2 separate regions of the Homo sapiens genome follow, and region 1 is linked to region 2. The links come from fine-mapping of genetic effects on gene expression. A gene starts in region 2. The other region holds a variant in brackets. All regions are shown on one strand. Distances are from middle to middle.

Evidence for each region. PIP is the estimated chance that this variant, and not a neighbour inherited with it, causes the effect. A credible set is the group of variants that fine-mapping cannot tell apart.
Region 1: its variant is the best candidate, but not a certain one, in a credible set for the expression of MRGPRX2 in lung (TOPMed, PIP 0.90).

The regions. Positions count from the first base shown.
Region 1 is chr11:18,868,328-18,873,715 of GRCh38, reverse strand. It overlaps the pseudogene LOC645397. Among named protein-coding and RNA genes, the nearest start is that of MRGPRX1, 68 kb to the left of the region's middle. The variant G/T (reference allele first, on the strand shown) is at 3,150.
Region 2 is chr11:19,057,922-19,063,309 of GRCh38, reverse strand. It overlaps MRGPRX2 (MAS related GPR family member X2), which reads left to right and starts at 2,593. Exons shown (of 2, transcript NM_054030.4): 1 at 2,593-2,691.

The DNA.
Region 1 (5,388 bases), 190 kb after region 2:
TTGTGGTCAGGCCATGGTGAGCCTTGGATGACATTCTGATATACCTTTTTCTTCATTTATAAAGCCCCACAATACACTCTCACATTGCTTGACATTGAACCTAGGCTCACAGTGGACATTTAAAGGTCCACAACAACAATTGATTACAGGGAGGTGGGCCATATGGGATGGGATGGGAGAGGCTGGCAGTCCAGACTGCAGGAGTTCCAAATGGAGTCAAGCAGACCTTTCTACTGATCCATTTACCCATAATGAGTTGGGATTGCTTGCAGATGAAATTAAAATCAATGGCAAAAGTAAAGACAAAGTTTTTGTCTGTGCTAGAAAGGATAAAGGATCAAGCAGATGGAAAATACATCTTAGTCACTGGGATCACGCCCACTCCTCTAGGAGAAGGGAAGAGCACAGTTATGACTGGGCTGTGCAGGCTCTGACCATGCATCTGCATGTCACCTCTTTTGCCTGTATGAGGCAACCTTCCCAAGGACCGACTTTTGGAGTGGAAAGAAGGAGTCATGGGTAGTGGATATGCCCTGGTCATCCCATGGAAGAGTTCAACCTTCACTTGACTGGAGATATCCATGCCATCACAGTTGCCAATAATTCACCAGCTGCTGTCATCGACCCAAGGATTCTGCATGAAAATGCACAGACAAGGCTCTGTATAATCAGCTGATTCATTTAATGAATGGTGTCACAGAATTTTCAGAAATTCTCTGATTACTTGACTAAAAAAAAACTGGGAATAAATAAGACAGATCCAAGCACACTGACAGAAGAGGAAATGAGTAAATTTGCCTGCCTCGACGCCGACCCTTCCACCATCGCATGGCAGAGAGTATTGAATAAAAATGACCGATTTCTACAAAAAAAATAGATGTTGGCATGGATACAGTGATCTACACTGCCGGTGGGAATGTAAACAAGTACAACTACTATGGAAAACACTGTGGAGATTCCTTAAAGAACTAAAAGTAGAACTACCATTTGATCTGGCAATCCCACTACTGGGTATCTACCCAGAGGAAAAGAGGTCATTTTACAAAAAAGATACTTGCACACACATGTTTATAGCAGCACAATTCACAATTGCAAAAATGTGGAACCAACCAAAAGCCCATCAATCAACAAGTGGGTAAAGAAACTAATATATATATGATGGAATACTACTCGGCCATAAAAAGGAATGAATTAATGGCATTCTCAGCAACCTGGATGAGATTGGAGACTATTATTCAAAGTGAAGTAACTCAGGAATGGAAAACCAAACATCATACGTTCTCACTGATATGTGGAAACTAAGCTATGAGGATGCAAAGGCATAAGAATGACACAATGGACTTTGGGGACTCAGGGAGAAAGGGTGGGAAGGGGATGAGGGATAAAAGACTACAAATTGGGTGCAGAGTATACTGCTCGGGTGATGGGTGCACCAAAATCTCACAGATTTGATTTCATTGCATCTTTCATCAAAACTGTCAAAGCACCAGTCACCCCCAAATCATCAGTGCCACAGGCTGCCCCGTTTTGTCACAGATCACCACTAAAGAACTTACTCATGTAACCAAACACCACTTGTTCCCCAATAACCTATGGAAATAAAAAAATTTAATTAAAAAAATACAAACAACTGATTTCTACAAAAAATAACCATCAGGCAGGCAAACACAGAGAAAGGCTCCTCTTGGCAAACGCTGTTTGATATCGTGGTGGCCAGCGAGATCATGGTGGTGCTGGCCCTTATGAACAGCCTCTCAGACATGAAGACATGGCTGGGAAGGATGGTGGTGGCCATCTGATGCAGACCCTGGAATGGACACCTGTATTCATGCACGTGGGCCCTTTTGCTAACATCACCCATGGCAATTCTTCAGTGTTGGCTGACAAAATTGCCCTGAAACTGGTTGGTGAAGAAGGATTTGTAGTGACTGAAGCTGGCTTTGGTGCTGACATTGAAATGGAGAAATTTTTCAACAAGTGTCAAGCTTCCAGCTTGGTGCCCAGTGTGGTTGTGTTGGTGGCAACGGTGCAAGCTCTGAAGATGCACAGTGGCGGGCCAAGTGTAACTGCTGGTGTTCCTCTGAAGAAAGAACATAAAGAAAAGAACATCCAGTTGGTGGCAGATGGCTGCCGTAACCTCTAGCAGCAAATTCAGATTGCTCAGCTCTTTGGGGTTCCCATTATGGTGACTCTGAAGGTCTTCAAGATCCACACCGGTGCTGAGATTGACTTGGTGTGTGAGCTCACAAAACGGGCTGGTGCCTTTGATGCAGTCCCTTGCTATCACTGGTCAGTTGGTAGAAAACGGTTGCGGACTTGGCTTGGGCTTTGAGAGAAGCTGCAAGTAAAAGAAGTTGATTCCATTTCCCGTATGATGTTCAGCTTCCAATTGTGGAAAAGATAAGAACCATGGCCCTGGCTGTCTATGGAGCCAACGATATCCAGCTCTCTCCTGAGGCACAAACCAAAATAGATTGTTAACACTCAACAGGGTTTCAGAAATTTGCCCATCTGCATGGCAAGGACCCACCTTTCTCTGTCTCACCAACCTGCCAAAAAATTGTGCCAAGGGACTTCATTGTACCTCTCAGTGATGTCAAGGCCAGCATAGGTGCTGGGTTCATTGGCCCTTTGGTTAGAACAATGAGCATCGTGCCAGGACTGCCACTTGGCCCTGCTTTCATGACATAGACCTTGATATGGAAACAGAACAAATTAAAGCCTTGTTCTAAGTGAACAAGGCTTTCATAGGAATTGATTCAGGTTCCTGAAACAGACTCCTCCTTGCCTTTTTGCTGCAGTTAGAGAAGAAACTGAATTTTAAAAATGTCCTTTATGCAATGTTGGAGAAATGGTGAAATAGGTCAAGGATTTCTTCCTCATTGAAGGTGTATCCTATTCACAACAGAGTATAGTGTTCAGCAAAAGGACCTCCACCAAGTCTGAAAAAAAATAATTTACTTAAGTTTCAATAGAGTTTACATTATTTCTACTGCTTACACTTTAGAATGTTAATTTTATGGGACTAAGGGATTAAAAGAGTGTGAACTACAAGGTAACATTTTCCACTCTTGAGTTTTCTTTTTTTTTTTCCTTTTTTTTAAATTATACTTTAAGTTTTAGGGTACATGTGCACAATGTGCAGGTTA[G/T]TTACATATGTATACATGCGCCACGTTGGTGTGCTGCACCCAGTAACTCACCATTTAACAGTAGGTATATCTCCGAACGCTATCCCACCCCCCTTCCCCCACCCCACAACAGTCCCCAGAGTGTGATGTTCCCCTTCCTGTGCCCATGTGTTCTCATTGTTCAATTCCCACCTATGAGTGAGAACATGCTGTGTTTGGTTTTTGGTCCTTGCAATCGTTTGCTGAGAATGATGGTTTCCAGCTTCATCCATGTCCCTACAAAGGACATGAACTCATCATTTTTTATGGCTGCATAGTATTCCATGGTGTACATGTGCCACATTTTCTTAATCCATTCTATTATTGTTGGACATTTGGGTTGGTTCCAAGTCTTTGCTATTGTGAATAGTGCTACAATAAACGTACGTGTGCATGTGTCTTTATAGCAGCATGATTTATAATCCTTTGGGTATATACCCAGTAATGGGATGGCTGGGTCAAATGGTATTTCTAGTTCTAGATCCCTGAGGAATCGCCACACTGACTTCCACAATGGTTGAACTAGTTTACAGTCCCACCAACAGTGTAAAAGTGTTCCTATTTCTCCACATCCTCTCCAGCACCTGTTGTTTCCTGACTTTTTAATGATCGCCATTCTAACTGGTGTGAGATGGTATCTCATTGTGGTTTTGATTTGCATTTCTCTGATGGCCAGTGATGATGAGCATTTTTTCATGTGTCTTTTGGCTGCATAAATGTCTTCTTTTGAGAAGTGTCTGTTCATATCCTTCACCTCCTTTTTGACGGGGTTGTTTTTTTCTTGTAAATTTGTTGGAGTTCATTGTAGATTCTGGATATTAGCCCTTTGTCAGATGAGTAGATTGCAAAAATTTTCTCCCATTCTGTAGGTTGCCTGCTCACTCTGATGGTAGTCTCTTTTGCTGTGCAGAAGCTCTTTAGTTTAATTAGAACCCATTTGTCAATTTTGGCTTTTGTTGCCATTGCTTTTGGTGTTTTAGACATGAAGTCCTTGCCCATGCCTATGTCCTGAATGGTATTGCCTAGGTTTTCTTCTAGGGTTTTTATGGTTTTAGGTCTAACATTTAAGTCTTTAATCCATCTTGAATTAATTTTTGTGTAAGGTGTAAGGAAGGGATTCAGTTTCAGCTTTCTACATATGGCTAGCCAGTTTTCCCAGCACCATTTATTTAAAAGGGAATCATTTCCCCATTTCTTGTTTTTGTCATGTTTGTCAAAGATCAGACAGTTGTAGATATGTGGCATTATTTCTGAGGGCTCTGCTCTGTTCCATTGGTCTATATCTCTGTTTTGGTAGTAGTACCATGCTGTTTTGGTTACTGTAGCCTTGTAGTATACTTTAAAGTCAGGTAGCGTGATGCCTCCAGCTTTGTTCTTTTGGCTTAGGATTGACTTGGCAATGCAGGCTCTTTTTTGGTTCCACATGAACTTTAAACTCTTGAGTTTTCTACTTTGTCTTTGAACAGAAAATAATCATGGACTTAGAAAACCAAACCCACACACAGAGTGGGATCAAGCCATTGCAAGCCCTGAAAGACCCTATGATCTACTTTAGTTTTTAGTTATAAAGCCTCACAAAACAAGCTCACGTTGCTTGACATTGATACCTAGGCCCATAATAAATTGTAAAAGTTCAAAACAGCAATTACTTACAGGAAGTTGAATGAGATGGGATATGATGAGAGAGGCAGATATGTATTAATAATGGGACAGAGGCCAAGAAACATCTCAGTTAGGGATCGTGGCTCAAACAGCTCTGGCTTCTGATTTGCCTGCAATCCTCATACAGGAAATCACATGCTGTCTGTATCTTCATAAACCTGGGTTGGTTGCCAGTTCTCATTCCAGCTCTTGTAGGCATCTCCTAAATGACACAACACAGAATAGTGCTCTGAAGTCACGGAATCCCAGAAAGGCTCTACCCCTTTAGCAAGGGGCAGCTCTTTATCTTTGGACTTGAAGAAGGAGGAAAGGTAAGGGTATGTACCAAGAACTCTCTTCTTTCCACAGCAAGTTATTGTTTCTGCTATAAGTTCACAAACCTGTGTTTCCACCTTGGGGTTCTGCATACAGAAGTTCATAAGTTTCCTTCAAGAAAAGGCAGGAGACATGAAGCTTCCTTCTAGAAACTGAGTGCTGGCAGCCCAGACTGCGGGAGTTTCAAATGGGGTCAGCAGAGCTTTCTCCCTCTGATCCATCTCTCCATATCACCCCCTTTATT
Region 2 (5,388 bases):
TGTCTCAGCAATCCCACTACTGGGTATATACCCAAGAGATTATAAATCATTCTACTATAAAGACACATGCACACATACGTTTATTGCAGCACTATTAACAATAGCAAAGACCTGGAACCAACCCAAATGCCCATCAATGATAGACTGGATAAAGAAAATGTGGTACATATACACCATGGAATTCTATGCAGCCGTAAGAAAAGGATGAGTTTATGTTCTTTGCAGGGACGTGGATGAAGCTGGAAACCATCATTCTCAGCAAACTAACACAGGAACAGAAAACCAAACACTGCATGTTCTCACTCATATGTGGGAGTTGAACAATGAGAACACATGGATACAGGGAGGGGAACATCACACACTGGGGCCTCTCAGGGGGTGGGGAGCTAGGAGAGGGATAGCACTAGGAGAAATACCTAATGTAGATGACGGGTTGATGGATGCAGCAAACCACCACGGCATGTGTATACGTAGGTAACAAACCTGCACGTTCTGCCCATGTATCGCATAACTTAAAGTATAATTTTAAAAAAATAAAATAGAACTTCTAGAAATTAGTAATATAAAAATTGGATTTAAACTTCAGTGGATAGATTAAACAGATGATTAGACACAATGGAAAGAATCTAGTTAACTGGAAGATACATCTGAAGAAATTACCCAGAAAGCAGCCTCAGAGACAGAGACGAGACATAAGGAAAAGGTTAAAGAAATAAGGATGATAGAAGAAGAGGGCTAACATATGTTGAATTAGACTTCCAGAAAGAGATAATACTAAAAGTGATAATGAGAGCTAATAATTTTATAGTACTTACTATGTGCTCCTATTGTAAATCATTTATATACATTAAATTATTAATCTTCACAGCAAACCTATAGATTAATAATGTTATCCCCATTTTACTGATGAGGAAACAAACATAACAGAGTTACAAAATCTGGCTAAGGTCCCATAGGAGAAATGCCAAGTAGCCTGGTCTTGTGTTCTTCACCGTTATGTTAATATTTAAAGAGATTATAGCATTAAATTGTTTAAAAATGTTAAATGATGATAATTTTAAAATCTAGGAAACTCCACAAATCCCAAACATGATTTGAAAAAGAGTCACCAGATACAATTTGGTGAGAATGTATCATAGCAGAGAAAAATAAAAGCTCTTAGAGGAAAAAAAGGCAGATCACCACAAGCAAATGGCAACCTGACTGATGGCCGCAACAGTAACCCTGGCAGTCAGAACATGGATCTTCAATGTGCTGGAAGAAAGAAACTATCACCCTACAATGCCATGCCTGGAAAAACCATCTTTAGAAGACGAGGGTGAAACAATGACATTTTCAGATAGATAAAAGGAGGCATTTACCATGCAGAGACTCTCACAGAAGGAACTCCTGAAGAATGTGTTTTGAGAAATGGAAGATATGAGATGTAAAATGGGAGGATGAGCAAAAGCATTGGTGATTATGTGGATAAATCTGAATAAACACTGACTATTTAAAACAATAATAAGTGTTTCATTTGTTGGAGGGAAACAGAATCAAAATCAAATAATAGAGCACAGTAGGTTAGACAGTAACAGAAGTTAAAGCTTTCTAAGGTCCTGCTGCTGCTCATGAGGAAAGCAGATTTCTGGGGACAAATGCATGGTTTACCCACTGCACCAAAGTATAATACAAGAAAATGCTGAGTCTCAGAACTCGCCTCAATCAACACATGTTCCCTGTCTGAGGTCACCCAGCTGCTCTGGAATGCAAAGGGGCATGATCTTGTATGGTGTTCATCATTGTGTCTTCATTGCCTGGAACGGTACCTGACATATCATAGGCAAACAATAAACAGTGTTGAATGAATGAATAAATGAGTGAATAATTTCTTCTGATTGTCTTAAATGCTTCATAATTGTTACTTATAACTCAATTTGGCTGCAGCATAGGCACATGAAAGGAAGTCATAGGAGATAAGGCTGAAAATATTGGTTGGCTCTAGATGATCTAAAAATAATCTAGCTAATAAATATCATGATGTAGAGGGAGAAACGTGACAGATGGTGCATGTGATGTGCTAAGTCCCCTATATTTTATAAGGAGACTCAATATATCTAGTTGTTAACATCGATAAATCAAAAATAGAAATGTTGTTTTATTACGCAAAGCTTTTTTAAAAAAAAGAATGGAAACTGTATGCAGTGGTTGCTTTTGGGGAATGAGACTTCGAGAGACTTTGCATTTCATTTTATACACCTTAGTGTCATTTGAAATAAACCTGATTTTGAAAGGTCAAGTAAGCCAGGGCCTTGAATGCCAAGCAGAAGAGGGCAGACTATTCTTTAGCTATGAAAGCTCACGTCGCTTGATTGGTCTGCTTCCTGGATGCTCATTGTGGGCAATGAAAGACTTCAGGACGGTGATTCCTTGCAGGGAGTGGGGCCGGAGAGGGTAGGGGAGAAACCAAGATAAGTGATTGGAGTCAGGGCAAATGCTGAGAAACATCTCATGTGGTTTCCTGTGTCATACTCTTATTTTCCAGCACCCTCTGTACAGGAAATCACAGGGTTGTTGAGCATCTTGATAAGCTTCACTCAGTCATCAGGTTTCACTCCAGATCCTGCAGGCATCTCCCCATCCTCAGCTGTTTGCCAGTCCCAGGAAAGCACTTCTCAACTCACCAACTCCAGTAGAAAGAAGGGTGTTAAGGTAAGAGTTTGTTCAAGAACCATCTTCTTTCAAAGGCAGTTTTGGTTTTTACCTTAGTCCACATCCTGATGAATTCATTAGGAAAAGAAGACAGGAAGCTCCTTTGAGGAAGCTTTGGATGCTGGCAGCTTAGATGCTGGGAGATCCGAATGGGGTCAAGCAGGTTCGTCCCACTTCTCTTCTATCTACCAATATTCTCCCCTTCTCTTCGACCATTCAAATCTGAAACTATGGAGAGAAAGATTTTGCTGATTTTAATTTAGGGGCAGGCTAGAATGAAGTCATTACTTCCCTAAGCTAAATTGTTATTTAAAACCTCAGGTTGCACTGATTTTCTTGTTATTCAAAAGGTTTTTCCTTCATATCTGTCATTGTCCCAGCAGAAAACACACATCACACACTCTAAAGGGGTAGTTTAGAGGAGTTTAGTGAAGAGACTGTTTACAACGGCGTGAACAGGGATTAAGGAATGATGAAGCCCTCAAAGGCAAGTGATAGTGGAGGGCTGTTACCGTTGCTAGGTCTGAAGTGATAAGGAGAAAGAGAAGTTCTGAGAACTCAGAATGTGCTGTAGCGGTAACTGTAACTGTAACTATAGCTGTGGCTACAGGAAAGGGCCACCAGGCAGGGCTATGTCCTTAGGTAGAAAAACACTGCCACTGCCAACTCACAGCCCTTCAGGGCGCAGGGAGAGAGCCAGGAAATTTTTAAAAAATCATCCCCCAATCTACTGTCAATGTGTCCCTTTGGCTGAAAAAAAAAGTCACCCTCCAATCTCCTGTCAATGTGTACCCTTTGGAGCCTGAGTGAAAGACAGCCCATTGACGAGGCACAGACATGTCTCCTCCCAGGATGCAAAGGCAGGTAGAGAAGGATGGACATGAGATCCTAATAGCAAATAGGAAAGTCCATTTCTTCCCATAGCCTCTTCTCAGTTTGTCTTTCCTGAGACTTTCTCTATTAATGTGATTGAATCAATTTCTCATTCTATCACCTCCCTTTTTTTTAATTGTTTGACCTTCCCATCTAGTGTCACTTCTTTGGACTAGTCTCTCACTATCATCATAAATGCCTTGAGAATGGAATGTGGTTGGGAAAAAAAGGGATTGGGAGTACATAGGTACTCCCAGCTATAAGTACACAGGTATGTGTAATGTAAGTTTATGATTTTGGCTTCTCTAAAAAGAAACCTATTATAGTGATAATCAAAAAGAATGTTTACTAGACTTGGGCTGATAACTCTAAGACATCAAACATCAAGGCTCCTTCCAATTTCTATTTCCCCATCCCTAAAGCGGTACCCTTACCCTCATGGTCCTACATGGCTCCCAAACACATCAGCATTCCAGCCAGAGAGAAGAGAAAAAAAGAAAGAGTACAGGAGTAGCTGGTTATATCACTTTCTCTCACCTCCCCTTGACCATCACATATGGTTACATGGTGCCATTAGCATAAAGGGAAGCTGAGAAATGGGCCTTTTTCTGATCTAAGACTCAGAATTATTATGTGTGAGAAAAGGAGAATGGCTTTTGGGGCAACAAGCAGTCTCTATAGCCCGATTCTCTTTTAGCATCTGTGCTCACCTGGAGATTTTTCTCAACACTGCCTCACAAATAGTGAATGATGTAGACATGGAACAGAAATAAACCTAGGACAGGGCCCCAGGAGACTGGAGCTGGTATTGGACCTGCTTTTCACCATGTGATTCAGGAAACTCTTTTGTACACGTTAAGCCTGTCTTTCTTTGTTAAATGAGCGTATTACAATAGATGGCCTCCAAGGGATATGTGTTGGAGGCTGGGGATATAATAGTGAACAACCACAACAAAAATGTTGAGCTTAATGAGGGAAGTAAAAGAAAAAACAGACATACACTTAAAAATACAGGTGCAGGGCCGGGCACGGTGGCTCACGCCTGTAATCCTGGCACTTTGGGAGGCCGAGGCGGGCAGATCACAAGGTCAGAAGTTCGAGACCATCCTGGCTAACACAGTGAAACCCCGTCTCTACTGAAAAAAAAAATACAAAAAATTAGCCAGTCGTGGTGGTGGGCACCTGTAGTCCCAGCTACTCGGGAGGCTGAGGCAGGAGAATGGCGTGAGCCCAGGAGGCGGAGCTTGCAGTGAGCCGAGATCGAGCCACTGCACTCCAGCCTGGGTGACAGAGCGAGACTCCATCTCAAAAAAAAAAAAAAATACAGGTGCAAACTGTGTTCAGTGCCACGAATAAAAAGGCCAACCTGCCCTGAGGGAGGACAACAGAAGTGGTTTTCTTCCATATCCTCACAAGGCCAACCAGGGCTACAGGAACTAAGACAGCATGTGATGGATGCATTCAGTCCTTGATGCCAATTCTGCACCCCCATGGAGGACACATTCACTTTCCCCTTGGAGGCCTCCAACCCATGAGAGTTTTCTGCAGTGTGGAGTGATTGACGGCTGTTTTTCTGAAGCAAGAAAGAGCTCTTGCATTCAGTTGCTTATTCTCAGTTGGCTTCTATTCATATCTCTTCTCCTTATTTGATTAATCTCTCTTCCTTACTGTTTCTTAAAGTTGCTTAATCTAGGCTTAAAAAACTGCAATTTCGACATTCCATTTTGGATTTGATATGAGCATTACTTGTTGCTTTTCTCCTTTCTTCATGTGTAGTTGGTATTGAACCCTTGCAATGGGGCTGCAAGGCTGGTTAAGAACAAG